7 linked regions of the Homo sapiens genome follow. The protein of the gene in region 1 purifies or fractionates together with the protein of each later gene. This does not show direct contact. Each region holds a gene or a part of one and is shown on either strand. Other genes may lie near its edges. The genes, in order: GDA, SMS, RPS6KA3, TIPRL, C11orf58, MVD and AMDHD1.

Region 1 (4,402 bases):
TGGTCCAGTGGTAATAAGCTAGAGAGAACTTAGCAAGGCCTGCTTGTTCAGATTCTTCTCTGTGATCCTTTAGCTTCAGAGATCAGGTATAGGGAGGGCACCCCTTACGTGATGGTCTTATGACCTGCATTGGGGTAAGGGGTAAGGGGAGGGTCAGAGTGACCTTCCTGTGTTTGATTTGAGGGTAGCGTGTCCTGACCCCCTCATTATTTTCATATTGCTTATTCTTTTACTCTCTGATTAGAGTAAATTTCTAAGAATAGGGCTCTAGGGAATAGTCCTAGTGATTTTTCTTATATCAGGGGTGTCCAAGGGAGTTCTTAGTTTCTGTTTCAGGTTGTGCCAGTAAAGCCCCCTCCCTCATCCCTCTTTTCTGCTTATCAGTAGAGACAGAAACTAAAAACCATGGCTTCAGGCTGCTAAAAGCCTAAAACAAAACATAACAAAACAGAACAACAACAACAAAATAAGGCAGGTTGGATGAGCTTGTCTTACATCATACCCGTCTTGAAATATTTGAATTATTTTACTAAATTAATTTCTTTAATTTATATAATACCTTTTCTCTGATGACTCAAAATTCACATACCCAGAACTTTCACACAATAGGTAAACTTCTGTTAATTGCCAGTGGGTTATTTTTTGTTCTGGGAGGTTTTTATAAAGCACATAGCCACTTCTTTTTTAATTAATAGAAGTAGATTTTGCCATTGAGAAACAAATTCGTATTTCTGGGCTTTGTCAACCACTATCAGCTGTGAATTTACTTTTCTAAATGCACAAATGAGTCTTTCTTATTACTTTTATTTTCCATTTTAGGCTGTTATCCAGAAGTTCCTCTATCTAGGTAGGTAGATGCATGTCTCTATGCTAAATATTAAATAGAACCTTTCCCTGTCTTTTTCTTGGGTATGGCTCTATGTATTTATCCTACCATATATTAAACTCTGTGGATGATAATTTGCTTTGATTCATTATTTTTTTAACAGTCTGAAGCATCAAGCCCATTGGTGGCACATTATTTAAAGGTTCTATTTGAAATGCACATGACTCCCTCTAGTCATAAATTCTAAGCTGAGGAATGGAAGGCCAAAGGTGAAGAGATCTTCATGTTCAACCCTCTTGTACTCATTCGGTATCTGACATACTGCCCTGCCATGTTTTTGTGACAAATGTATAGTAGAGTCTCACCACACGTGCTGGTGATGTACTCACATTCAATTCCATTCACTGAGAGAGAGAGAAACAGTAATGCAGAATATTCTACACTGCCTCCCATTCTGTTCAGTGAGCCCAGGACTGAGTGAACTCAAGATGGAAAGATGCATGTGTTACTTCTTGTGGAGCTGATTCTGGAGCGTAAAGAGTAGTATTTCTTTCTCAGTGGGGGCAAAATGTAAACCAACCACTTCAGCTGAGAAAGGACAGCTATAGGGGGTTGATTCAACTTTATGTGATTTCTGCCTCTGGTGCAGAATTCAGACCCTAATCATCAAATTAGCTATGGCATTTTCTACTAGTCATATCTTCCTGTTCAGATTATAAACAATCTGAGGGTTGGGGGAAAGCAGCTTTTAGTATTTCCTCTCCTAGAAGTATCTTTAAAAAAAATCTCTCCCAATGGCAAGGAAGATACTTATTGACACAAAAGGATTTTATACATGATTCCTTGATTTTTCTTTCAGGAGATGATCGAAATATTGAAGAGGTTTATGTGGGCGGAAAGCAGGTGGTTCCGTTTTCCAGCTCAGTGTAAGACCCTCGGGCGTCTACAAAGTTCTCCTGGGATTAGCGTGGTTCTGCATCTCCCTTGTGCCCAGGTGGAGTTAGAAAGTCAAAAAATAGTACCTTGTTCTTGGGATGACTATCCCTTTCTGTGTCTAGTTACAGTATTCACTTGACAAATAGTTCGAAGGAAGTTGCACTAATTCTCAACTCTGGTTGAGAGGGTTCATAAATTTCATGAAAATATCTCCCTTTGGAGCTGCTCAGACTTACTTTAAGCTCAAACAGAAGGGAATGCTATTACTGGTGGTGTTCCTACGGTAAGACTTAAGCAAAGCCTTTTTCATATTTGAAAATGTGGAAAGAAAAGATGTTCCTAAAAGGTTAGATATTTTGAGCTAATAATTGCAAAAATTAGAAGACTGAAAATGGACCCATGAGAGTATATTTTTATGAGGGAGCAAAAGTTAGACTGAGAACAAACGTTAGAAAATCACTTCAGATTGTGTTTGAAAATTATATACTGAGCATACTAATTTAAAAAGAGAACTTGTTGAAATTTAAAACGTGTTTCTAGGTTGACCTTGTGTTTTAGAAATTTGCACTTAATGGAATTTGCATTTCAGAGATGTGTTAGTGTTGTGCTTTGCCTTCTTTGGCGATGAATGTCAGAAATTGAATGCCACATGCTTTCATAATATAGTTTTGTGCTTCAAAGTGTTTGACAGAAGTTGGGTATTAAAGATTTAAAGTCTCTTAGGAATATTATTCATGTAACTCCATGGCATAAATAGTTGTATTTTTGTGTACTTTAAAATCAACTTATAACTGTGAGATGTTATTGCTTCCATTTTATTAGAAGAGAAACAAATTCCATGCTTTATGGAATTTATGTAGACTGGAGTCTTCGTGAACTGGGGCAAATGCTGGCATCCAGGAGCCGCCAATACTAACAGGACAGGTTCCATTGCCATGGCCTATTCCACCCAAACAATATGTTGTAGTTTCTGGAAATTCCATACTCAGATATCAGTCTGCTAGAACTTTAAAATGAAGGACAAATCCTGTTAAAGAAATATTGTTAAAAATCTTTAAACCCTGTGTATTGAAAGCACTCTATTTTCTAATTTTATCCAGTTTTCTGTTTAACTCCTTATAATGTTTAGGATATTAAAATTTTAGGATAATGAAGAGTACATAATGTCCTACTTAATATTTATGTTAATAGGACTTAATTCTTACTAGACATCTAGGAACATTACAAAGCAAAGACTATTTTTATGCTTCCATAACCTAGAATTAAAACCAAATTATGACCTTATGATAAATCTTTAAGTATTGGTGTGAATGTTATTTAAATTCTATATTTTTCTTATTTAATTACAAATACTATAAATGAGCAAGGAAAAGGAATAGACTTTCTTAATATATTATAACACTCATTCCTAGAGCTTAGGGGTGACTCTTTAATATTACCTTATAGTAGAAACTTTATGTAATATAGCTAACTCCGTATTTACAGAACAAAAAAACACAGTTCCCCCTCCTGTAGTATAAATTTTATTTTCACATACTTAGCTAATTTAGCAGTAATTGGCCCAGTTTTTTCCCTAATAGAAATACTTTTAGATTTGATTATGTATACATGACACCTAAAGAGGGAACAAAAGTTAGTTTTATTTTTTTAATAAACAACAGAGTTTGTTTTGTGAGATAAGTATCTTAGTAAACCCAATTTCCAGTCTTAGTCTGTATTTCCAATATTTCTAATTCCTGAGCCACGTCAAAGATGCCTTGCCAAATTTCTCCCCATTTCTCTACGGGGCTAGCAAAAATCTTCAGCTTTATCACTCAACCCCTGCCAAAGGAACTTGATTACATGGTGTCTAACCAAATGAGCAGGCTTAGGAATTTAGATGAGATGTGTAAGATTCACTTACAGGCAGTAGCTGCTTCTAGCATTTGCAAGATCCTACACTTTTACCTTCTTTAAGGGTGTACATTTTGATGTTGAACATCAGTTTTCATGTAGACTTAGGACTCATGTGCAGTAAATATAAATAAGTGTAGCATCAGAAGCAGTAGGAATGGCCGTATACAACCATCCTGTTAAACATTTAAATTTAGCTCTGATAGTGTGTTAAGACCTGAATATCTTTCCTAGTAAAAATAGGATGTGTTGAAATATTTATATGTACTTTGATCTCTCCACATCACTTATAACTTATGTGTTTTATTTCTCCAAGTGCGGTGTTCCTGAATGTTATGTATGCTTTTTTTTCTGTACCACAGGCATTATCTATACCTGGGGCCAGATTTTCTGCACTTTGAAATGTTGCCTTTGCCTAATGTAGGTTGACTTTCTGAATTGTGGAGAGGCACTTTTCCAAGCCAATCTTATTTGTCACTTTTTGTTTTAATATCTTGCTCTCTGACAGGAAAGAAACAATTCACTTACCAGCCTCCTCACCCCATCCTCCACCATTTCCTTAATGTTCCATGGTATTTTCAACGGAATACACTTTGAAAGGTAAAAACAATTCAAAAGTATCGATTATCATAAATTCACAAAATATTTTTGCAACCAGAACACAAAAGCAGGCTAGTCAGCTAAGGTAAATTTCATTTTCAAACGAGAGGGAAACATGGGAAGTAAAAGATTAGGATGTGAAAGGTT
Region 2 (3,500 bases), on another chromosome or scaffold:
AAAAGGAACTTAATCTTCTTTTCTCCTCATGAGATGGCTTTAGAGAAGCCATTTTGGAAACTGCTAGGCAGCAGACACAGTATCAAAGTCCTTTGCTCTTTAATCCTCAACTAGGTAGATTATTTGTTTGTTTTTGAGACAGAGTCTTACTGTCACCCAGGCTGGAGTGAAGTTGCGCAATCTTGGCTTACTGCAACCTCTGCCACCTAGGGTTCAAGCAATTCTCCTGTCTCAGCCTCCCGAGTAGCTGGGATTACAGGTGCCCGCCACCATGCCTGGCTAATTTTTGTAATTTTAGTAGAGGTAGGGTTTCGCCATGTCGATCAGGCTGGTCTTGAACTCCTGACCTCAGGTGATCCACCCGCCTCGGCCTCCCAAAGTGCTAGGATTACAGGCATGAGCCACTGTGCCCAGCTGATTATTTCTTTGTTGATGGCCACATAAAAGGGTACTGTTACTAAATTGTCTGTTCAAGGCAGTCTAGGTAACACATTTGCCTCTAGTCTGTGGTAACATTAATTTGAGTTGTGAGACACTGAAGGAAGGAAACAAAAGAAGCCCACTGAACTTGTTCTCTTATACAACAAAGGATATCTCTACCATAGTGACCATCTTTGGTTTTAGTTTGACTATTTCACACAATATGCCTCCGTCTCCACCTCCCAGAATGAGTACATCTTTGCCAGTGTAATCTTCTTTGCCACTGCCCATGATGGCCCGGGTATATGCCAAATCACTCTCTGCCAAATCTAGGGAGGAGAAACAGATCCAAATGGTGAGTCTACCTTAACACACAAACCACCTGGCCCCACCACACTGAAGAGCTGGGATCTAGACCAAAATGTAAATTTTTCATTTTCAATTTTTTAAAACTGTGAACAATTTGCAAGCTTTTTTTCCATTGAGGACTTTTTCATCAACCCTGATCATCTGACACCTAATACAAATGGACATTAGTCAGTGGGAAGAAAATCCAGCCTTAAAAATGTGTCAATATACCGAATAACTAAAAGCAATTACATCTTTACAAATGAAATAATATGATGTCTGTGAGCTGCTTCAAAATAATATGAGAGGGACAAAGTGGACTGGGGTTTAGGTAAAATAAGACTGGCTAGGAGGTGGTAATTGTTCACACTCGATGGTAAGTACATGTGGGTTCATCACACTAGTTTGTCTACTTAGGTTTGAATTGTTCTGTAACAAAAAGGTTTTTTTTTTTAAATATGCAAATGCATTTTCTTTTGAAATACAATCCAAATACTCATCACTAAGGAAGCAATGTCAAGACAAAGTTTATGTGAAAGCCCAGACAATCCACAGGTTAATATGACATAAATGTGCATCTCAAAAACCAGCAGTGTCAAAAACAAACTCAAACAAATCCACGACAGTAGTAATTGTCAGGAAAACACCATCATTCAACACATCACCACTTTGTTACGTGATCGGGGCAGGGATGGAATACTTACTAACATCCCCACTAAGGATGAGAATATTTCCAAACTGCTTCGAGTGTAGAATTTTTATATTTTGATAAGGTGAATCTTCGTCATATACCACTTCATCTATGTCATATTCAACCAGGCGCCCGTCGGCGGTGGGCCAGTATCTGTCGATGGCTCCTCCTCGCACTATGGGTGGTAATCTGGAAAAAGAGAAAAACAGAAATGTACCTTACTAGAACACTGCCTTACAAGTGGAGCTAGGATGAAGAGTGTGCAAAAGAAAGCCACATGACTGCCGACTTTTGACAAGCACAAAACGAATCCAAAGCTTGGGCTTTTAGTTTTATATAATCACGGCCACCACCAAATGTTGACAACTATTGTACACAGTTCACTTTTTAAAAAATCCTGTCATGCTTTAGATTTTCTCTAACAAAAAGCTGAAGGAGAAGATGGCCACTGCACACTTCATATTTCAAATGCTCCAGCAGCATCTGTCTCTTAAGACTATCTACATAACTACATGGACATTACCACATTTACACCAGTTCACATGGGTATGATATGGTTATCTAGTACAGAGTCCATCTTCAAGTGTCCCCAGTTATATCCTTTATAGATGTTCTGCTCTTGAATAAAGGCTCATACACTGCATTTCCCTGTTTTTTTTTTCTTTTTTATCCTCATGTAACGTATAATTTTTTTTTTACTGGTATGTTTCATGACACTGATATCTCCAAGTACAGACCAGCTATTCTGCTGAAAAATGACTCGTGGGTTTACCTGATAATCTCTCACTCTTCATGGTTAGAATCAGGTTGACATATATTACACAGGCATCACATCGGGAACACAAGATGTGTATCTGTCCTATTATTGGTGATGCTAAGTCTGTGATCACTTGGTTAAAGTGGTATTCATGGGCTCTCTCCATTTGCAAAGGTACCTTTTTCACCCTCTGAAATTACTAAGCAGGCTGTGGGGTGGTGCTCTGAAACTAGGTAGAAGTCCTCACCCCCCAACAAACCTTTACCAGTGGTTTTAGCATGCAGAAGATTCTGGCCTGAACCAGTTACTACTACAGAGGCTGCAAAATGATGATTTTTTCATTCATTCTTTTGTAAATACCCGGTATTTTTCACAGGATGAATGTACTAGAAGGTACCAGCAGAGGACACTAAATGACAGGAAAAAAAAGACCTGGAAAAGGGGCTTGGCAAGTCTAACCCAAACACAAAGAAAACGAGAGCTCACTGCATACATAACACAACTGCGTGAGTCATGTGTTCTCAAACACAGTAGTGTTCAACATTAAAACGCCATGATGTACAGCTGTAGACATGTAAAATGCTGGGATATGCGGCCTGACGTACTCTTATGAGTCTCTTTCCCTTCCCTGCTCACCAGCTTCCAAGAGTACAGTCTAAACCTGTTACAAGTTAACAAGGCTTTCTATGAGGGAATACTAACATCTATAAAGAACACCGAGATTGAAAAGGCAAACTCCCATAAATTCATGTCATCCTGACAACTCTTCATTTAACCACTTCTTCACCTTCCATGTGAACAAATTCAGCTTTCAGAATGTGAGGCATTCTAGAGGGTTTTTCTTGTAAATTGTAAAATGTGAAGCACCAATCAGGACAACTGCTAGAGAGCAGGCGAACAGGACTTGGAGGAAGCCTCTTCCACCCCTGGCTGATGGTGGGGAGTGAGGTGAGAGTGAGCCACCCATGGCATTGGATGAACGACAAAGTCACTCACTTCCAGGGGAGGAAGACTACCCTCTCCTTGACAGCCAGCCACCTATCGGCAATTACTGCACTACAGGCAAACCCACTGAAACTAAACAGTGCCTGTTCTCAATTGTGTCAATAGTGCCTTGGCTAAGGTGAAGAGCTCTTTCCTACATTGTAACTCTATGGTTTTTTTAAAGACTAGCAAAGAAAGAAGGATCTTAACAGGATGTAAATGCCATTACCCTGATGAAGTGCTCAACCTAGCATTAAAGGGCATCTCGCTGGTAGCCCTATAACGGGCTACCAGGAGGTA
Region 3 (4,402 bases), on another chromosome or scaffold:
AGCAAGTTTTCATTCTATACTTACATTCCAGTCTATCGTTGAGAAAAATGAATGTCTTTTAATTTCTTCAACTCCATCTGGTCCTGCACCTATCAAAAATGGATTCACTGATAATTTTATTTCAAGGAGAAATATACATATTGCTCAGCCTTTGTTTTCAATACTTGTCTAATTAATTAATTAATTAATTAATTAATTTTGAGACAAGGGCTTGCTCTGTCACCCAGGCTGGAGCGCAGTGGTGTGATCTCAGTTCACTGCAGCCTCAACCTCTCAGGCTCAAGTGATCCTCCTACCTCAACTTCCTGAGTAGCTGGGACTACAGGCACGCACCACCATGCCTGGCTAATTTTTGTATTTTTTGTAAAGATGAGGTTTTGCCATTTTTCCCAGGCTGGTCTTGAACTCCTGGACTCAAGTAATTCTCCCGCCTTGGTCTCCCAAAGTGCTGGGATTACAGGCGTGAGCCACCAGGCCTAGCCTTGTCTAAATAGTTAATAATTCCACCACAAAACAAATATCTACTCCCCGCTAAAAACAAACACCAACAAACATACAACATAAACAAATTAGTTAAAATTTTTACCTAATCTGTTTGCAGGATTTCGCTTGAAAAGCATTCGTAAAAGACTCTGCGCTTCAGGACTCAAAAACTGTGGCATTCCAAGTTTGGCTCTAAATAATAAATCCACATAATATTTTATTTTTTGGAGGCATCTGTATTTTTATTTTTAAAAATTCTTAAATTAAACTTTTTGAGATACTTGTAGATTCACACTCAGTTGTAAGAAATAATACAGAGAGATCCCCTGTGCCCTTTACCCAGTTTCCCCCAATGGTAACATCTTACAAAACTACAGTACAATATCACATCCAGGATATTGACATGGAGACAATCCAATGATCTCATTCACATGGCACTGGTTTTATTTGCACTTATTTGTGTGTGTGTTTAGTTCTATGCCATTTTATTACATGTATGGCTTCTGTATGAATATGTCACAGTTTATTTATCCATTATCTGTTGAAGGACATTTGGGTTGTGCCCAGTTTGGGGCTAATATGAATAAAGCTACAGTGAACATTTATGTACAGGTTTTCATGTGAACACATAACTGAATTTTAGTTCATAATCTAATAAGCTTTTTCATTTTTCAAAATTTTGCAAAGAGCACTGTGAAAGTAAGATCATTTGAATCCTAGTTCTGGCTCTGTTACTAAGAACTTTGTGACAGTGGGAAAGCCAATTATTCTGGGCCTGTTATCATTTCTTCATAAGCAAAGGGATTGGTCTCTAGACCAATAGCTCCCAAAGTATAGCCTCGGAACTCCTCCTCAAAGGGAATTTAAGAAACCTAACATTTAAAGCTGCTAAGAGAACATGTGTTTCATATGCCACTTTTTCCTTTCTATTCCCTTTAACAGCCCCTGAAGGGAAGGGGAACTGTGGGAAAGAGGATTGTGAAATATTGAAGATACACAGTCTAAAAACTGCTGGCCTAGATGAACTTGAAGGTCTGTTTCAGCTCTAATTTTAATTCTTTTTCCAAACCTACAAATTAAAGAAACCAATGATCCTGTAAGTATGACAATAATAATAGAGCTGGGGAAAATTCCTATTTCAGAAACAGATCCATTTATTATTCAGTGGGTTGTTATTGAGCTATTACATGCCAGACACTGTTTAGTGCTGAGGATACAGAGATAAAGAGAGCCCATGAAACTCATGGTCCATGGTGAAGATGGATACAGATAATGCTAGTACATTAAGAGACAAATGCAGAAGAACATATGCAAAGAGTGACAAGGGAACAGTAGGGGATATTTAATTTAACATGGGAGATTATGAAAGGTCTTCAATGCAATCTAAAGGCTAACAATTTATTCATTTGGCTAGTGTTTCCCCAAATTTTACTGAATAACATTAATCCCTCTAGATAGTTAGCAACAATAAAAAAATTCATGACCCAATGAGCTTGTAGAATGCTATTTATTATATCCCCCTATTAGACACACAGAATTAAAATACACTGCATATAAAAAGGCTGAGAAATCTAGAGCAAACAAATCAGTTTTTTTTTTTTTTTTTTTTAAGACAGAGTATCCAGGCTGGACTGCAGTGGCACAATCTCGGCTCACTGCAATCTCTGCCTTCTGGGTTCAAGGGATTCTCGTGTCTCAGCCTCCCAAGTAGTTGGGATTACAGGTGTGTGCTACCACACCTGGCTTTTTTTTTTTTTTTTTTTTTTTTTGTAGAGATGGAGTTTTGCCATGTTGACTAGGCTGGTTTTGAACTCCTAGCCTCAAGTGATCCTCCCACTTCAGCCTCTCAAAGTGCTGGGATTATGGGTGAAATCAGTATTTTCTAAGTATTTATTTCCAGCACCTCTTTTTCAAAGAATACCTATTAATATCTTGTAGAATTAATATTCTCTTGGACAAATCTGGGGAAACACTATTGTATTAGGTAACAAGGATGCAGCAGAGGTCCTGAAACTGGACTAACATGACTAGACTTATTTTCAAGAAGGTAACTCCAAGGGTAATAGAGAACAATTTGGAGTGGGAAGAGGTCATAAGTGGTAGGCAATCAACTTAGGAATGTGGTCAGATAGTATGGGTAAGAGGTCACTGTTTTCTGAATACTTTAAGCAGTTTAATTCAGAGGAAAGGCTGGAACAGTGAAATAATTCTGAGATCGAATTTGGAGAATACCTAATTATGCAAAAGAGAGAAGGAATAAAAAATGATTTCCTGGTTTCTGGCTTGGAAGAGGGTGCATGAAAATGCTGATAACTGGGAGTATAAGAAAAGAACAGCAAATAAAGATACATTTAGTTCAAAGATGTGAAGTCATGCATGTAATATGTTTTGGGAGGGCCAGGCAGGTGAGTAAATAGAAACACAGGTCTAATGCCTGGTAAATTCATGTAAGAAAGAGTGATTTGAGAGTAATTAAAATGTGGAGGGTAGTTATAGGAAAGACTGAAGTCAGTCAGGAAAGAGTGCAGAGGGGGAAGAAAAGCATATCATAGACGGATCCTGGGGGATAAGACCATTTAAAAGGTAGTCAGAAAAAGAACAATTAGGGCATTAAAAATAATGACTGCAATTGGCTGAATCACACTGATTATTAAATCCCATGAGTTTATTATGTAAAGTAAGAAAAAGCAAAGTCAAAATACAAAAACTCGACTCACTGGATACTACCCCCACTAGGAAGTAACTAGGGCTCTGACATTAGAAACAATTTAAGAAAAGAATTAAGTATTTATTCTCTTTTTCTTGGATGAGCGTTATTTCAAGTAATTAAATCATCATAGTTGATGAGGGAAAGTTTGTTGAGAAAATACCAGCTAATAAATGAGGAAGGAATAATAATAATAATAGAAAATCATGGCTGGTGCATAGTGGCTCATGCCTGTAATCCCAACACTTTGGGAGGCGGAGGTGGGAGGATCACTTGAGCCCAGGAGTTTGAGACCTGCCTGGCAACATAGCAAGATACCATCTGTACAAAAGATTAAAGAACTTGGCTGGGCATGGTGGTGCACCTGTAGTCCTAGCTACTCCAGATGCTGAGGCAGGAGGATCGTTTGAGCCCAGGAGTTTGATGTTGCAGTGAGCTGTAATCATGCCACTGCATTCGAGTCTGGGCAACAGAGCAAGACCTCATCTCCAAAATTTAAACTTTTTTTTTTTTTTTTAAAAGAAAAGCAATTCATCACTTTTGAATTCCTTATAAAATAACTGTTTCAAGTAATGATTATTAATGGATAGAACCATTAGTTAAAAGCATGCCAGGGAACTTTACAACGGAGGAATCAGCTGCAACCACTGGAGCCCATCACTTAAAGTGGGGGCAACCAGGTATTGTAAGCCTCCTGATGTAATAGGGACCACACGGTATTAGCTGTGAAATAATCTTGCTAAAACAGTTTAACCAAAAACAGAATAGAGGATCAAGCTAATAACACTAAGGGAATAAAAAAAAATTTCCATACTCCTAGGAAAAGACTAATTGTTATGTAACCATGGTAACAAGAGAACCACCAGAACTGGTTTTAAATCCTTTCAGTTGGTTTAAAATCCATTGAATTGATCAATGACAACTTGCCTGGTGAACACCTGCAAAGATGAGTAACTGCTCTTTGTCTCTGAAAATTAGCCAAACAGGAATGGACTCACTCCAATAAACACACCTGAATGCCCACTGATCAACAACAGTCCCACCCAAATAATCACATTCTTACAGATAATGTCAACCCACTTATAGACATGAAACTCTGCCACTTCTTGAGCTCCACCCTTCCTCAAAACCCTATATAAGATTAGTGGTCTACTATATTTGGGGAGACTCTAGCCTTACCATAGCAAAGAATAAAATAAACTTTATGCTTTT
Region 4 (4,226 bases), on another chromosome or scaffold:
TAGTCTACAATAGAATCTAAGTAGTAACTTTTCTGTTCCAAGTATACTCTATACCCAGACAGAAGTACATACTAAGCGTGAAAAAATAAAATCAAGTTTATAGGAAGGTACCAATTTTTAAGCAACCCATTATAGAATCCTAAGTTCTAAGGAAGGCTTCACAGGTCCCGGGGAGTAAAAAATAAAGAAAAATGATGCCAAAACAAACAAATTATGGTACAGAATCACCACATTTTCGGAAGAGAAAAGGAGACTATGTAGAAAGAAATAAGGCGGCAGGGTGGTAAGTGTAAAGAACATCCATCACCAGCCAGCTATGTGACTCAGAGTAAGTCACACCTCTGGGTTTCAATTTCTCTAGAACAAAATGTGAAAATTAGATTAGATGAGGCTTAAGTACCTAGCAGCTCTAAATGTTCTTGTATTTGAGGTAAGGTCAGAAAAGTTATGCTCCCATAGAATTTATCCTATAGAGCCCCATTAGGTGAATGAATGGGTTTAGGGATGTAAACTTGGGTGGTTGGGGTCAGGGGTATATGCTACTTAAATTAAAATGAAACATTAAAATTAACTTCTAAAAACTGAAATTTAAGTACTTGCCATCAAACTAGAAATTTTGCTTTCTCGTGACGTATATTCTCGTAACATGTAGGTCTTGTCAGCCTGTATTTAAAAATAAACAGTTGCAATAAATTTAATTATACTGATTTACAAAATCCTTTGTATTAAAAACAGACTGCCTACATTTTAGGATAGGTTGTCAAAACAGCATGCAGTCTAAAGAGAACATCTTGTTCTACACTGAGATAACTCCTATTTAACTCAAATTGGATTATTATTTCCAATTTCTATACATTATAATGATGATACACATATGTAAACAGATTTTATAATTACCATGTAAGAGAAACATAGCAAAGATTTTACTTTGAAAGAATATGTATATAAATGAATAATGTATATAATGAATTTGTATAAATGAAATATGCAAGAGATTTTAAAATTACTTCAAGTTTGAAACATCTTTCCCTTAAGCTATCTTATCATTTACCTACGTAATTGTGCTACTTTTATGTTGCAAAACATGCTTTAAAATTTTTATTCTTTCCCATTCCATAAAGCTCTTACCAAATAGCTTACTTAAAATCACCTTTTTTGTACTTCAATTTTTCCCATTTAAGATTTTTGGTTAGGTTTTAGAACAGCAACTTATTATAATTTACTTCTTGAAACACTTTTCAATAAAAGAAAAGCCACAAAATTATATGCCTTTAAGGTTTCACTCTCTTGTATTAATAAAAACAGATTAATAGTCACTGTAGGAAAAAAATCAAATAATATAAAAGTATAAATCATCAGTGATCACAGCTTATAGGTAACACTATCTTTAATACTTAGAAATCTCTACAGAGAATCTTATGTAAGTAGATTCATACTTGCTTTTGAAAGTTCAACACTGAAATGAATATCTTTCAAAATTACTTAAATATCAATCTCTGCAACCAATTTTAATAATTATATATTTTATACCATATGGATATAAACAATTTAATTAATGGCCATTTAATGGGCATTAAGTTCCTACTTTCCTTCCTTTCTGCTATTATAAACAATACTACTGTGAATATTCATGTACGTATAACTCTGAGTAATTGCCCAATTAATATTAGTAGATTATTATATAAAAGAATCTTTTTAGGATAAATTCCTAAAATTCAATATTGTTTAATTAAAACAGTATTTTTAACATTTAGGCCAGGAGCGGTGTGGCTCACGCCTATAATCCCAGCACTTTGGGAGGCCGAGGCAATTGGATCACTTGAGGTCAGGAGTTCAAGACCGGCCTGGCCAACATGGTGAAACCCCATCACTCCATTAAAAACAACAACAACAAAATTGCCAGGTGTGGTGGTGGGCGCCTGTAATCCCAGCTACTAGGGAGGCTGAGACATGAGAATTGCTTGAACTCAGGAAGCAGAGGTTGCAGTGAGCCAAGATCGCGCCACTGCATTCCAGCCTGGGCAACAGAGCAAGACTCCATCCATCTCAAATAAATAAATAAAAATAAAATTTAGATTTCTCTTTCTGGGGAACAAAAATATAGCTTATGTTTAGTACTTTGCCACCACTTTTAAAAGAAAAAAGGTCTATCACTATAACCATGTTATTTCAAGAAAAAATCCCTAAGTGAAGGGTTTAGAAAGCATCAATCCAATCCTATCCTACTAGGTTCAAATTCCAATTCTGCCACCTACTAACTGTATAACTTAGGTATGTTTCTTTTTTTTTTTTTTCTTTGAGACAGGGTCTTGCTCTGTCACTGCAGCCTCAACCTTCACCAGCTCAAGCAATCCTCCCACCTCAGCCTCCCAAGTAGCAGCTAGGACTACAAGTCCGTGCCACCATGCCTGGCTAATTTTTTGTATTTTTAGTAGAGACAGGGTTTCACCATGTTGGCCAGGCTGGTCTCGAACTCCTGATCTCAGGTGATCTACCCACCTCGGCCTCCCAAAGTGCCGGGATTACAGGCGTGAGCTACGGCGCCCGGCCTTGGCCTGATTAATATATTAATGTACTTCCTGTATATTAATGTACATCAGGACATTACATAAACAACATATACTGTAAACAAAGGTAAGAGTTAAAGGACAGTTTTCTTAAACATGGATTAAGTACATACAAAATTGTCTCAAAAGACCCCTCCCCAATTAGGGAGTGTCTTTTAGAAAACATTTTGAGTCACCAGAACCTTTGTAAAAGGAAATGTAATGTTTTGATGATAGCCTGCAGTCAACAGTGAATGTGAAACACTCAGACTTAACAGTTAGAAAGACTGCCATATAATATAGATTGTTTAATTTCAAATTCTCAGATTGACAATTAAACAACACAAACAAGCCCAGTATCAATTAGTATATTCATTAAACAACAATAAATACCTCATGGTAAAGTCTCGTGTCATTCATTCTGATAAGCACCCCATCAATTCTCAAGAAAAACCGCAACAGCAGGAAAAAGCTAGAAGGCATTACTCTCTGGAAAAAAAAAAAAAGGTACATTAATATTTTAATAAAAATTAAACATTTTATTACTTTGCTGAAAGAAAAAATTTGAAAACAAAAAACAAAAAAACCCTGGAATAAGGCTGAATTCACAGTTTATAAAAATCTCTCAACTAGAAGCTCTTTGTCCTAGCTCCAACTAGCCTCAAAACCTTGTGCAAACTATTTAACATCATAGTTTCGGTTTCCTAAAATATTTTTTCTAGGTGAGGAGATATTGAGGTTTAAAAGACTTAAAAACATACCCAAGTAATGTAAAAATTATAATGTTTATTTCAAAAAATGGCAGGTACTGATAGTAAATGTCAACACCAATAAAACCAAAATGAAAGAACAACCTAGTTCTTTGTCACTACTCACCTATTCACTTTACATAAAACAAAGCAACAGACCTTACACAGAATGCTCTAATTCAGTGCAACCTGTAGGCACTATTACATATTGCTAAAGACCTGGTTTATCAGAACACTATAACACATTCTTAACATCTTTCATCTGTGGCACATCTACAAATTCCTCTGCTTTCCAAGTATAACTACTAATGATAGGCAGAATCAGTGGAGAAAGTATGAAGGTGGGTCCTGGTGGCGGGGAGAGAGCGGTTGAATGGAATGTGAGGTATTTGGGTCTTTAAAATGAATATGTTTAGCTGGCATGGTGGCTCACACCTATAATCACAGCAGTTTGGAAGGTTGAGGTGGAAAGATCACTTGAGCCCAGGAGTTCAAGACCAGCCTGGGCAACAGAGTCAGACCCCATCTCTACAAAAAATACAAAAAATTAGCAAAGCACGGTGGCACAAGCCTGTAGTCCTAGCTACGTGGAAGGCTAAGCTGGGAGGATGGCTTGGGCCTGGGAGATAGGCTGCAGTGAGCCATGATTGTAACACTGCACTCCAGCCTGGGCAACAGAGCAAGACCCTGTCCCAAAATTAATTAATTAATTAAAATGAATATGCTTGGCCATTTGCTGAATAAATACCTATTGTCTACTAACACCAAGTTCTTACTATAGTAAGTCTTGGATTTATATAAATGAAAAAATAGAATCCCAATGCTCAAAAAGGTTATCAGCCAGGGAAAGGTCAAACAGATGTGGTAGCTGCTATAATGGGTATGCACAAGGCTCAATAAGCATTTGAGAAAGAAGTACCTAAGTCTGCTG
Region 5 (4,402 bases), on another chromosome or scaffold:
CCTGGCACTTGTTTTATATAGTTGACCCTGAACACAGGATTAAACTGTGTGGATCCACTTATACTTGAATATACTTCTGCCTCTGCCACTCCCAGACAGTAAGACAATCCCTCCTTTTCAGCCCACTCAACATGAAAACTATGAAGATGAAGACCTTTATGATAATCCACTTCCAATTAATGAAGAGTCAATTATTTTCTCTTCCTTATAATTTTCTTGATAACATTTCCTTTTCTTTATTGTAAGAATACAGGATATAATACATTTAACACCCAAAATATGTGTTAACTGATAATTATGTTATCAGTAAGACTTCCAGTCAACAGTAGGCTATTAGTAGTTAAGTTGTTGGGGAGTCAAAAGTTATATGCAAACTTCTGACTGCCTGCAGAACCAGCACCCCTAACCCCCACATTGCTCAAGGGTCAACTGTACCTTCTATTAACGTTAACCAAACTGACAGGCATTTCAAAGTATCTTGAACATTTTTAAAATTAAGGTTTTCTTTCCCCCTGGTGTTCTACACATTCAGAGAAACTTCTCTATCTAGTAACAAACTATAGAAATAATCTCTGAAAGTGTAGTCTTAAAATTAAGTTTTTGATAAAGGATATTCCTCTGGTTACTACTTCAAGGGCTGGAGGGAGCTATAAAATATGACAGCCTTTTCACTTTGGCCAGAGGTTCCCACAAGATAACCTACCCAGAAGAAATATATTCTATCAAACCACTGGGCCAACATATGGCAAATCATAAACTTTGACATCTCTTTTCTCCTATACAGCCTCCTTGAACCAAATTTTTCTCTGTACAGTCTTCAAACTATACGGACAGAGAATCCTAGAAGTGGCTCAAAAATAATATAAATTTTATGTGCTTGGTTAGGCCACATGTATTTCCCAAAGCCAAAAGAAATCACACAGAACAGGAAAATGGAATCCAAGTATATTCAGTCCTTCTTACTTAGCATACATAAAAATGGCAATATTTTCACAGAAAAGGTAAAAATGCACACCATCTGATGCTTACCTTTCCTGCACCCATAAGTCTCAAGAACTTTTGTTTTCTCTCTTCATTACCCAAGTCTGCTGCCTCCCAATTGCTAGATCCCAGCTAGAAAAAAAATTGGTTGATTAAATTTTTTTTGCATAAAAATAAGTATTACGAAATCTAAAGTCTACCTGTAACTCTCAAGTTTTTTTCCCCTGTCAGTTGTAACTATAAACAGCGTTCATTTTTCTTGCTTAGGAAGTTAAGCATATTCATCACATTCAAATTTACTCCTTTTCTATTACCTCACAGCAGAATCCTTTAGTTCTCCTACAGCCAGAGCTGAGTCTCAAAAGTTTGCCTCTATCAGCGTCACCTAGAGGGCTTGTTAAAACAGACTGCAGGGCTACAGCCCCAGAGATTCAGCGGGTCTGGGGTGGAGCTCTAGGATTTGAATTTCAACAAATTCTTAAATGATTGCTGATGCTATTTATCTGGGGACCACACTTTGAGACCCACTGCCTCGCAGGGTAGGGTCCTAGAGCACCTAGTACTCTGAACTTAGATGGCAGCCACAGTTGTTAGTTGAAGTTAAAAATTCTGCCTTTATCAGTGAGCTAACTTTTAAGAGAGAAAATTTTAACTTTTCAGTTGCCTTTTTTTTTTTTTTTTTAGCAGTTCTAGTTACTTGTTAGGATTGAGATGTCATTACTTTTATTCTTTCTTAAAAGTCTTCCAAAGAACAAAGAGAAAACTTATTTTTTAAAAGAACAGACTAAAACTCATGCTATCTTGCAATTATCAAATGAGTCCACTGAACTCTTATAAATCTAAGAAATATGATGGAATCCTAGTGAGCGTATTTTTTCCCTACATTTTGAAACAAATGTAAAAACTGTTGTTTTTTAATAGTTTTTAATAGTTCATTATTTATAATTCATTATTTATAATTCATTATTCTCAACTATGCTAAAAATAACTAAATAGTTTTTAAGATATTAGTTTTCTCATTGTATTGTCCAAAGTATTTCATCATCATCTTTCAAGACATCATACCTGTTGTCTACTTTTAGCTTTCACTGAACACCGATGGGAATTCACAATTTTTCATTTTCCATTCATAATGGCAAAGAGAAAAAACTGACAGAAGGCATTAATCATTATTAGACGAAGAAGGTGAATGCAAAATGAAAGGCAGTCGTATTCTAGACTAATCATGATAAAATTAACTGCAAAAATCTCAGACTATGAGTTTTTGGATGAGGAAATATTAGAAGGCTTTTCTCCCACCCAAGAATTGACAAGAAAAAGAAAAAAAAGACAAACAAGAAATGTACTCTCACTGGGAGAGCCATCAGCAGGAAGGACTTCATCTTGCAATATTTCACAGTAAGAGCCAGGATCATCCCATTTTCTAAAAGGAGGTGTGAGTGTTTTATCTCATCTTTTACAATGTTTATGCATCAAAATTTACTTGATTTGGTTGCAAATGGACAAAGGGTGAAGGCAGATGTGTACACAAGGTGACTGGAAGGAAAATGAAATAAAAATATTCACCGAATTTATCATTCTAATTAAGTTTATAATCTAAAAATAAAAATGTTTTGCAATTATGGAGCAAGGATGACAATTACAAAATTGTAAGCAATAGGTTTCAAAAATTCCTCAAGTATTGTATTTTGATGATGCAAATCCGAGACAGGTTTGAACTTCAAGGGTCCCTTATAAGTGGATTTTTTTCAACCAAATGCAGATCCATCCCAAGTATATGGAAGGCTGATTTTTCCTATTCTCAGGTTCCACAGGGCTGGCTGCAGAACTTGAGTATGCAAGATTTGCCAAAGAGGTGGGTGGGTCCTGGAACCAATCCCCCACATTTAGCATACTGAAGGATGACTATATGTACATCAAAATCAGGAAAACAAAGAATATAAATTTCGGTTTGCTATTGTTAAATTCACATTAAAATTCCTAATAAAGTTGTTTTGCACTATCTCCCATTATTATTTCTAAAAATTATTTGTAAAAGACTAAAAGAATATTTAAAAAAACCACTATTTCCCCTGGGCATATGAGAGTTAAAGCATTTGTACCAACCTGGACCCATTTGCACTTCTAAATTCTCATTAGTGGAAGGGCTTATATGCTCTCATAATTTTGGTTCCCTAAGTTCCAAATCTCTACTTTTTTCCATGTGACCCCCCTCATATATTTTTATGGGCCATTTAGTTCTTAACTATTTCTGGCTCAATATAGTTAAAGTAATGGTGAAGCTTCAGTTCTGACAATCACTAAATCACTTGCTCTGTAAGCCAGGATCTGACATTTAACTTAATTTTAACTCCTTATCTATAAAGAGATGCCTTTTTAAAAGACTGTCTTAAGACACTGAGGCACAGAGAGGCTAAGTGACTTCCTTTGATCCTCTGACCATCCTGTGTTTTTTCCACATCATACTGTCCATGATCAAATGAGACAGATGAAAGTGGTCTATGAACTAGTTATAAAAATGTATAGAAGTTAAAAAATTGTGTAAAAACCAACTTTCTTGATTCTGCTTCTATTAAAAAACATTTTCAGTGTTTATATAAATAACTGTCATCTACAACTTCTAATCCCAATGTTTTAAGGAAATAACATTAAGTCCTGCCAGTTCTTCTTTTCAAAGACCTTAAAGCAGCACTCCAGGACCAGACTGGCATCAGGGACCAGTTTCGTGGAAGACAATTTTTCCACTGAGAGGGAGGATGTGATGGTTTCAGGATGATTCAAGTGCATTACATTTATTGGGCACTTTATTTCTATTATTACTACACTGTAATCTATAATGAAATAATTATACAACTCACCATAATGTAGACTCAATGGAAGCTTTGAGCTTGTTTTCCTAAAACTAGACAGTCCCATCTGGGGGGTAATGGGAGACAATGACAGATCATCTGGCATTAGATTCTCATAAGGAGTGTGCAACCTAGATCACTCGCATGTGCAGTTCACACCAGGGTTCACGCTCTTATAAGAATCAAATGCCAACAGGAGGCAGAGCTCAGGTGGTAATGCAAGCCAAGGGGAGTGGCTGTAAATACAGATGAAGCTTTGCTGGCTGGCCCACAGCTCACGTCCTGCTGTGCAGCCTGGTTCTGTGGCCCAGGGGTTGGAGAGCCCTGCCTTAAAGTACAACAGTGAGTACTTGCCCAAATGCTGCATTCTGAAAAGCACGTGGGTGCACTATACATTTTAAGAGAGTTCCTTAGCAGTTACTAAAATTTACCTCCCCACTCTTCCCACTTCCTATAAGATAGCTTTCATTTCTCCACTCCAAGCCAATGAAACGACTTTTAAGTTGTTTTCATCCTTAATACCCTTTACTACAGAACTGCAATCAATTTACCTCCTCAATACATAACCTGGT
Region 6 (4,402 bases), on another chromosome or scaffold:
ATGTCAGGTCACCAGGAATGGCAGCGCCTCATCCTGTGCCCAGCATCTGTAGGGCCGGACACAGGAGGGTAGCGGTGTGCCCCCGCCCTTCCTGTGGGTCCTGGTCAGAAGGTAAAGCGCCTGAGTGGTGACACCCACACGCAGCTCCTGCAGGCACAGCCGCCCCTGCCAGCTGCGAGCCCCCTGCCCTGGGCACTGCTTCTGTCACAGGGGGGACAGAGAACCACAGAGCCTGGGAACAGGCAGCCCCTGAGAGGAAGGTGGCGGCAATGGCTTGGGCGGCCGTGATCACTGGATGCAAGCTTGGCCCTCGGAGCAGGTCAGAGGGCAGGAACTCCGGTCTGCTGGGGTGGTTGGGGTGGGGGGGTCCCAGGGACCCCAGCAGCCCCCACCCCAGGCGCTCCCTATTCAAGGGTCTGATACTCCCCACCTGTCTCCCTGGGAGCCTGTGTCAGACTCACCCTCCCACCCTCAGCGCAGCCCTGCTGCTCTGAGCATCACCAGTGGCCTGTAATGTCCACTTTGAGAGCAAATGAATGGACAAAGGCGTTCTGGCTTCCTGCCTGAGACACGGTAGGGACAGGGAGCCGCGCTTAGCCTTTAAGGGCCCTGGGGGCTGGGCGGGCCCCCCTGGCAGGAAAGGAAACCCCGGGGTACTGGGTGAGCCCCAGGCCTCACCTGAGTGACAATGATGTATTTGACCCCACCGGGGGTCGGCTCCATGGCCAGCGCAGCCTGAAGCTCAGCTGAGAGAGGGGCCGGCCTCACCTGCAGCCCCTTCAGAAACCTGGAAAAGCAGGGCAGGGGCACGGTGAATGCATCCGTTTCTCTAAGCGTCTACAACAGTCTACAACAGGCAAGTCCAGAGATGGGAAGTGCATTCCTGGCCGTCAGGGCTCAGGGAGGGGGAGACGGCAGGTGGCTGCTGTGGGGACAGGTTTCTTTTAGGGGTGATGAAAAAGTTAAGGAGGTGGCTTGAGGTGGTGCTCACATGACCCTGTGAATGTCCTCAACACCGCAGGATTATATGCTCTCGAATGGCTGAGACAGGAAATTTTAGGTTATGTGGTAAACAGCTATGCCCAGGCTGGACCCACATCTGGCCAAGGGTGCTGCCAAGCCCCATGGGGTAACAGCTCAGGGAAGCGCCCAATTCAAGCTGGTGCGTTCGTCACCGTGTTCTGCAGAACAGCGGAAGCCTGCAAGCCCCACCCGGAGCAGCAGCCACGAGCCTGGTGCTTCCCAGGCGGGCAGTCCTGGGGTGTGGGTCTGAGTCCACCCCACAGGGCAGGCCCCTGACCATTAGAAGGTGTTATTGCTCCCACCCGGGACAGACGCACATCCCCACACGCTTCCAGACACCCTTAAATGGGAGGCGCCTCTCACATTGAGAATAAGACACCATGAAAACACGGGAGGGAAGAAATCAACAGCCCCGGGGCGTAAGGAGGCTGGGCCAAGCTGTGCACCGAGGAGGGCGTACATGGGGGCTCTGTGGCACCCCCACAGAGCAGCGCAGGGGAAGAGGCGGTTCAGGGCCAAGCTGTGCACCGAGGAGGGCGTACATGGGGGCTCTGTGGCGCCAAGATGCAGCTGCCGGACCCCACCCAAGAAAAGACACCCAACTGCCGGGGCGGGGTCAACACCCGGCCGCCTTGACTGGCTCTAACTCGCTTCAGTAAGAAGGAAATCAGGGGCTTTGACTCCTTTCCTTCAAAATGTCGGACACTTACGCACACATCTGGGAGTGCAGGCGTGTTTCCTAAGCCACTGTTCTATAGAATAAGAGCCTGCGGGGTCCCGAGCTGCAGGGGACGCTGTCACTCAGGAGGTGGGAGACCCTGGGCGTTGCTCACACACGCGTGAGCGGCCTCTCTTTCTTCCCTGTGGACGTGGGCTGTGGGATGGCTCTATGGGGACACCCTGCCCGTGGCTCCCACACTCGGGGGACTGCTGCCTGCCCTGGGACTCCCTGTCTCAGCGCCACAGCCTTCAGGTGCCTCCGTCTCTTCCGACCAGAGTTCCTGGCACCATCTCCCAAAAAGGAGGAGGGGCGGGGTCCACACTCACGTGTCTCCATTCGAGCCTGGGGGAAAGCCGTGCCACACAGCAGCCACAAACTCAGCCACAGTGTCGTCCAGGGTGAAGATCACGGCATTGGGGCCCGCGTCAAAGGTGTACGCCACCTGGAACCCACAGCAGTCACCCTGGCTATTCACGTGGTGCCTGACCCTTGTCTCCCCAACCCTCTGGTCTGCCAGGCGGCCTTGGGCTCTCCAAGAGCTCAGTCTAGGCCCTCAGGGCCACACTGGAGTGGAGCTGTGACCCCAAGTGCCTGGTACTTGACACGTCTGCCTGTGAACCCAGGAAGAAGGTGGTGGGGCCGTGACCCGGGCAAGTCAAGAAACAAAATGAAACAGAAGAACCCAGATGGTCAGTGAGCTTCGCACACAGCAGGGTGGAGCTTTCAGACACAGATTGCCCTGCACGCGAGCCCCGGGGCCGTCTCCACGGCAGCACAAGCCTAGACACGCGCTACAGCGCGAGCGCAGCCTCTGCCCTCCCGGCCCGCGTCACCTTGGTGTCCCCGTGGTGGGCGTTGAAGCGGTGCACCAGGTGGATGATGCGCCAGGAGATGGCATTGAGGTAAGAGATGGGCGGGAAGGTGTCGAGGCAGGTGGCGTGGAACTGGTTGCTGTCCTTCATGGTCAGCTGGGCGAAGCTGGGGAAGTCTCGCTCCCGGATGCAGCGGGCCATCTCCGCCATGCGCGCGGGCACCACGGACTCGGCCCGGAACTGCAAGGCACAGGGTGTTTCCCATGGAGCCGCTGGGGGTCTCGACAGCAGAGGGTTCGAGGAGAGACTCCGGGGTTGGAGGCCCGGCTCGAGCCCCATCTCTGCATTTGGCTCCTGCACGTGGTCTTGGCGGGGCTGCCGCAGGTGTGAGAACACTCGGGCCCAGACAGAGGCTGAGGGCAGAGCCGGGCACAAGCGTGACTCCCAGGGCCCCGGGACCACCCGCTCCTGGCCTTACCCGAAGCAGGGGGCTGGTCTCCACACTGGCCCGCATGCCCACGGTACTGCCTGTCAGCTTCTTCTCAGCGCTCACCTGCACGAGGGAGAGACAGCCTGGGCCACACCCTGCAGGGGGCCAGCCCCAAGGACCTCAGCCTCAAACACTCGGCCCTCCCTCAGCCAATGCAGGCAGCGGGGGTGGGAGTCAGTGCCACCTGCCTGACCACAGAGGCCTCCCGGCCACAGCAGGGGTGACGCAGGGGCAACTTCCAGATCCCAGCGGGTGGTGGCGCCCGCCGCATGGGAGCGGTTCCTGAGCACTCAACCACGCTTCTGTTCCTTCAGCCCCCGCTGACCCCAGGAGCCAAGCAAAGCCTGGATGGACGCCTTCGCTCCTGCTCCCGGCAGCAGCCCTGACTAGGGACAGAGGCCACCGGGCTGCTGCTCCACCCGCCCCACCCCACTCACCACAAGGATGAGCACGCGGAGTTCAGGCCAGTGTGACTCGGGGGCCACTTGCCGAGCGATGCTGTCCTTCCCGTCGGCCTGCTCTCCCATCTGCCACTCCACAAAGCCCCCATACAGGCTCCGGCAGGCGCTGCCTGAGCCCCGGCGAGCCACTTCTGAGAGGTCACTCTCCACGCCGTAGACACGGGCCAGGGTGTAGGCTGCAGGCATGCGGATTCAGGGAGGGTCCTCAGAGCTGCCTGCGCTGTGCTCCCTGACAGCTCACCGCCCCAGGAACGTCCCACACCCCACGGCAAATGGGGATTTCCAGATGACAGGGCTTCTGGGCCATCAGCCTTTGAGGCCAGCATTCACCGGCCCAGCCGTCTGTCCCCCACCTCCGCTAGTTCCACTCTCGGACACTCTCTGTTCACGGCCTGCAGAGCTTGCGGCCCGCGACAAGGGCAACAAAAGGTACCTGCGGCAGAGCAGGAAGCCCCATGGAAGGCGGGAGAAAGGCCCCCGAGGACACCCAAGCTGGGCTTTGAGGGTGGGAAGGAATTTTAAGGCTGTGTGGGGCAGGGACCGATGCCAGGACAGAGCTGGACTCCACAAGACGCGCCCCCTGCCCACCCAGCACGGGAGCCACCTTCTCCCCTCCTCCCACAGGGCTCCAGCAGGGCAACCCCACCTCCAGGTCTGGTCACCCACCCTGGTCACCGAGGGTGGTTCAGGGAAGGCGCAGGAGCCCAGGTGGGCCAGGAAGCGTCACCCCTGGAGTTGAGGGGTGAAGATGGTGTGAGACCACCACCGGGGGGACAGGCTCTGACAGTGGGTGGGAAGCTGCCAGCAAGTGGCCTGGGGCCAGCAGAGAGCTGGGTCCAGCGGGGCCTGCAACCAGCTGTGCCCATTGGAATCCTCAGTTACGTGAGCCACAAAA
Region 7 (4,402 bases), on another chromosome or scaffold:
CCTTGGTGACACAGTGAGACTGTCTCAAAATAAACAAACAAATGAAAACCCATCAGTTAGAAGCTCTGTCAGATGTGTACAATAAATATTTAAAAGTATAAAAATTTTATATAAAAAAATATAAATATGAAGCCCTTTTGTTTGTGTAGAACTGAAAGTTTGTGAAACTTGTTTTGGATGATTATATGAAGCCATACAACATAATGTAGGAGATGATGGTTAATAAACTGATTCTGTTGTCAATCATCAAAGATACAAGTGAACTGCAGTGAAAGCTCTAGGATTTTTGTTTTTCTTTTTCTGCCCAGAGCTGGATCCTTTGTTTCACATCCTATACAAATTTAGAGTATTTCTAGTATTAGAGACAGCAGCTGCCTTGTTAGCCTCTCCTATGCCATGGATTAATAAAGTTCTTTTGACTGTTTTTGAACCTAAACACAACACAGCTGGTTTCTATTCAGCATGTGAGTGGGAAGAAGTGGAGTCGAATGAATGGGCTTGATTCCTAGGTTGTCTGTTTCCTGTTTAGGAACCTTGGGTAACATATTTCACCCTTAGCTTCAATTTTCTAATCTGTAAAGTATAGATAATGATACCTCCCACACAGGGCAGTTATAAGGATTCAAGGTGAAACCATGTTTGAAAGCAGCTATACATTCAATAATAGAAATTCAATACATGGAACGATGATTTTTTTTAAATATTATTTTGAGACTTTAAAATAAGCTGTTACTCTTCCTCTTTACATTTCAGGAGCAACTGTTAAAGCTACTTGTAGACCTTTACTGAAAAAGAGGTAAATACCTGGTAGAATACATTTCCCAGAGCAGTCAATTATTTCTTCAAAAGTTTCTCCAGAAAACTGTCTTTGAATAACATCAGCAGGACCAATAGCTTTTATAAATCCATCTCTGAAGAAAAATCAAGAAATAGTTATTAAATTTGGGGAAATCTTGTGAGAAATCTGATGAGTGACTTAAAATATGTTTTCAGATTCTTTGGTGTTAATTAGTCAACATTTACTGTGCTTCTATCTTGAACCTGAGTCTGGAAAAGCGTCTCTAGCCACATTCGAGGCAACCATAAAAGACCCAGATTAGCCAAAGCCTCCTCAGCAAAATGAACAAAACTGGAGGAATCACATTACCTGACTTCAAATTATACTACAGAACTATAGTAACCAAAAGAGCATGGTACTGGCATAAAAAACAGACACATAGACCAGTGGAACAGAATAGTGAACCCAGAAATAAGTCCATACATCTACAGTGAACTCATTTTCAGCAAAGATGCCAAGAACGTACATTGGGGAAAAGACAGTCTCTTCAATAAATGGTGCTAGGGAAACTGGCTATCCATATGCAAAAGAATGAAATCAAATCTAAATGGGTTAAAGACTGAAATCTAAGAACTTAAACTATGAAACTACTCAAAGAAGACCTTGGGAAAACTCTCTAGGACATTGGTTCAGGCAACAATTTCTTGAGGGATACCCCACAAGAACAGGCAACCAAGCCAAAAATGGACAAATGGGATCACTTCAAGGTAAAAGCCTTCTGTACAGCAAAGAAAATAATCAACAATGTGAAGAAACAACCCACAGAATGGGAGAAAATAATTTGCACACTATCTAATTGACAAGGGATTAAAAACCAGAATATATAAGGAGCTCAAACAGCTCAATAGGAAAAAACCTAATAATCTGATTAAGAAATGGACAAAAGATCTGAATAGACATTTTTCAAAAGAAGAGATACAAATGGCAAACAGGTATATGAAAAGGTGCTCAACATCAATGATCTTCAGAGAAATGCAAACAAAACCACAATGAGAGATCATCTTACCCCAGTTAAAATGGCTTTTATCCAAAAGACAGGCAATAAAAAATGCTGGCAAGAATGTGGAGAAAGAGGAACCCTTGTACACTGTTAGAAATGTAAATCAGTACAGCCACTATGGAGAGTATGAAAGTTCCTCAAAAACTAAAAATAGAGCTACCATATGATCCAGCAATCCCACTGGTAGATCTATATGCAAAAGAAAGGAAGTCAGTATATTAAAGAGATGTCTGCATCCCATGTTAATTGCAGCACTATTCACAATAGCCAAGATTTGGAAGTACACTAAGTGCCCACCCACAAATGAATGGATAAAGAAAATGTAATACATACACACAATGGAGTACTATTCAGCCATAAAAAAGAGTGAGATTCTGTCAATTGCAACAACATGGATAGAACTGGAGGACATTATGTTAAGTGAAATAAGCCAGGCACAGAAAGACAAACTTGGCATATTCTCATTCATTTGTGGGAGCTAAAAATGAAAACAATTGAGCTCATGGAGATAGAGAGTAAAATGATGGTTACCAGAGGCTGGGAAGAATAGAAGGGGAGAGGAGAAAAATGGGGATTGTTAATGGCTAGAAAAATATGGTTAGATACAGTGAATAAGACCCAGTATTTGATATCACAACAGGGTGACTACAATCAGCAATAATATGTTGCACATTTTAGAATAACTGAGGGAGTACGATTGGAATGTTTGTAACACCAGGAAATGATGAATGCTTGAGATGATGGAAACCCCATTTACCCTGATATAATTATTACACATTGTACGACTGTTTAAAATAACTCATGTACCCCATATATATGTACCCATGAAAATTTACAATTAAAAAAACTTTAAACGTCAAATATATGTAGCAGACAATTGCCATTTGTTCCCCAAGATCAATGTTCCCTTTTTTACACTAGTAGAGCCCTAAATTTTAGCTGGACACATGATGACCCAAAATACAGACTACATTTCCCCACCTCCCACTAGCCAGGTGTGGCTATGAGACTAAGGTCTAGCCGGTAAGATTGTCTTCTCTTCCTATTCTTACTGGCTGGAATGCAGACACCACAACTAGAGATGGGGTGGCCATCTTGGGTCATGGAGTGAGTGTAAGAAAGTGGGCCATGCATGGGAGAGCAAGGCAGCAGGGGCCTGGCTCCTAAGGACCCCATGGAGTATTGCAATCAACTAGCCCTGCATTCGTATGTCTGGATTTTCACATAGGAGAGAAATATACTTCCATCTTGTTTCAGCCACTATTAATTTAGGTCTTGGTCACTTACAACAAATTCGTATTTCCAACATGGAGATTGAGGGCTATAAACCTGAGAGCTGGAATGTGTTGTGAAAAGCAATTAGGATAAGGGATTCCGAACTGGGACAGAAGTGGTTGGGGTAACCTAACAAAATGTAAGAGTGGAAGAGCAGAAGAAACTGGATGGAAAGAGAAGATGTTATGATAGGAAAAGAAATAATGATTGTGGGAGATTTGGGGAGGATAAACTTAGGGTGGAATAAGAAATTAAGTCTTGAAATAGAATTTAGTATCCTGATTAAGACAATTCTTCATCACTAACAGCTTTTATCTGGCCCAGTTAGATAATCTACCCAGTGTGCAGTGAATCTGGTGGTGGAAAGGACCGGCAGGATTAGAAATTGACCCTTGAATGGGAAAGAACAAAGAGAATGCTCTTATGCAAAGAGTTAATGACTGACACTGCTTTAAGAGAGGTTGTTTTAACAAAGTCAAACCTAAGAAATAAATCTCTAACATTCTCCGTCTGTGCAGGAGGTGAATTTTGAGGGCACTGGGTCCTCTTCCTGACCCCACTAATCCCATGCTTATCTACCTTTCAACAGTGTGGTTCTCTCATTCATCTGTGGATGTACCTATGTTTGAACAAAGGCTTATGTTCCTTTGTTGAGGACATAATGAGGGCAGTTATTGAAGGAAACCAACAAAAAGCATTCCCCCAAAAGTGTTTTTTTAAGGTAGTCATTAAAATTACAAAGATACATATTACTGCTATGGTGAGATTTTCACTATTTATGACTAAGTGAAAAAACCCGAATACAAAACAATATGCATAGCTTCCTTTTCTAAAGCATGCATTTTTATGTGATTCTATTTGCATAGGAAAACATCTGAAAGCAGAAGCACTAAATGTTGGTATTAGTTCACCTAATGATGGGGTTTGAGTGACTTTTTCCTTTTTGTTCATCTGTATTTTCTTTTCCTACAATGAACGTATATCACATATACTTTTTTAGGGGATACAAATAATAGGCACATGTGGTTTTATTTACTTTGTATTCTGAGAAATTTAGGAAGAAAAATTCTGCAGAGTCTTCTGAAAGTAAAGCAAATTAGCAAGCAAGACCCTACTTTAGGAGCTAAAGTATAATTATAATGAAAACAGTAATGATGATGATTTAAGGAGGATGATGCTTCTTTGAGTGGCTCTCAGGGTGCTTTGTGAAAATTTAGAATTGGCACATACACTGTCTCAGTTTCTAAAACCTAAAAATTGGTCTTGTTTTATAGTAGATAAATCTGACA

Evidence for each region.
Region 2: the proteins of GDA (region 1) and SMS fractionate together in Homo sapiens (co-fractionation; one large-scale study listed by BioGRID). This does not show direct contact.
Region 3: the proteins of GDA (region 1) and RPS6KA3 fractionate together in Homo sapiens (co-fractionation; one large-scale study listed by BioGRID). This does not show direct contact.
Region 4: the proteins of GDA (region 1) and TIPRL fractionate together in Homo sapiens (co-fractionation; one large-scale study listed by BioGRID). This does not show direct contact.
Region 5: the proteins of GDA (region 1) and C11orf58 fractionate together in Homo sapiens (co-fractionation; one large-scale study listed by BioGRID). This does not show direct contact.
Region 6: the proteins of GDA (region 1) and MVD fractionate together in Homo sapiens (co-fractionation; one large-scale study listed by BioGRID). This does not show direct contact.
Region 7: the proteins of GDA (region 1) and AMDHD1 fractionate together in Homo sapiens (co-fractionation; one large-scale study listed by BioGRID). This does not show direct contact.

Annotation. Positions count from the first base shown.
Region 1 is NC_000009.12:72,246,587-72,250,988, forward strand, and holds part of GDA (guanine deaminase), read left to right. Parts: intron 1-819; coding exon 820-847; intron 848-1,685; coding exon 1,686-1,756; 3' UTR 1,757-4,163; coding exon of another isoform or gene 4,164-4,252; 3' UTR 4,253-4,402. UniProt on the Homo sapiens protein: Catalyzes the hydrolytic deamination of guanine, producing xanthine and ammonia.
Region 2 is NC_000023.11:21,975,209-21,978,708, reverse strand, and holds part of SMS (spermine synthase), read right to left. Parts: intron 1,649-3,500; coding exon 1,473-1,648; intron 750-1,472; coding exon 595-749; intron 1-594. UniProt on the Homo sapiens protein: Catalyzes the production of spermine from spermidine and decarboxylated S-adenosylmethionine (dcSAM).
Region 3 is NC_000023.11:20,176,410-20,180,811, forward strand, and holds part of RPS6KA3 (ribosomal protein S6 kinase alpha-3), read right to left. Parts: intron 676-4,402; coding exon 587-675; intron 108-586; coding exon of another isoform or gene 90-107; coding exon 25-89; intron 1-24. UniProt on the Homo sapiens protein: Serine/threonine-protein kinase that acts downstream of ERK (MAPK1/ERK2 and MAPK3/ERK1) signaling and mediates mitogenic and stress-induced activation of the transcription factors CREB1, ETV1/ER81 and NR4A1/NUR77, regulates translation through RPS6 and EIF4B phosphorylation, and mediates cellular proliferation, survival, and differentiation by modulating mTOR signaling and repressing pro-apoptotic function of BAD and DAPK1.
Region 4 is NC_000001.11:168,195,356-168,199,581, reverse strand, and holds part of TIPRL (TIP41-like protein), read right to left. Parts: intron 3,036-4,226; coding exon 2,940-3,035; intron 664-2,939; coding exon 601-663; intron 1-600. UniProt on the Homo sapiens protein: May be a allosteric regulator of serine/threonine-protein phosphatase 2A (PP2A). Isoform 1 inhibits catalytic activity of the PP2A(D) core complex in vitro. The PP2A(C):TIPRL complex does not show phosphatase activity.
Region 5 is NC_000011.10:16,741,312-16,745,713, reverse strand, and holds part of C11orf58 (small acidic protein), read right to left. Parts: exon of another isoform or gene 2,047-4,402; intron 1,114-2,046; coding exon 1,030-1,113; intron 1-1,029.
Region 6 is NC_000016.10:88,652,622-88,657,023, forward strand, and holds part of MVD (diphosphomevalonate decarboxylase), read right to left. Parts: intron 3,684-4,402; coding exon 3,484-3,683; intron 3,110-3,483; coding exon 3,035-3,109; intron 2,797-3,034; coding exon 2,578-2,796; intron 2,187-2,577; coding exon 2,071-2,186; intron 788-2,070; coding exon 679-787; intron 1-678. UniProt on the Homo sapiens protein: Catalyzes the ATP dependent decarboxylation of (R)-5-diphosphomevalonate to form isopentenyl diphosphate (IPP).
Region 7 is NC_000012.12:95,949,226-95,953,627, reverse strand, and holds part of AMDHD1 (probable imidazolonepropionase), read right to left. Parts: intron 912-4,402; coding exon 805-911; intron 1-804.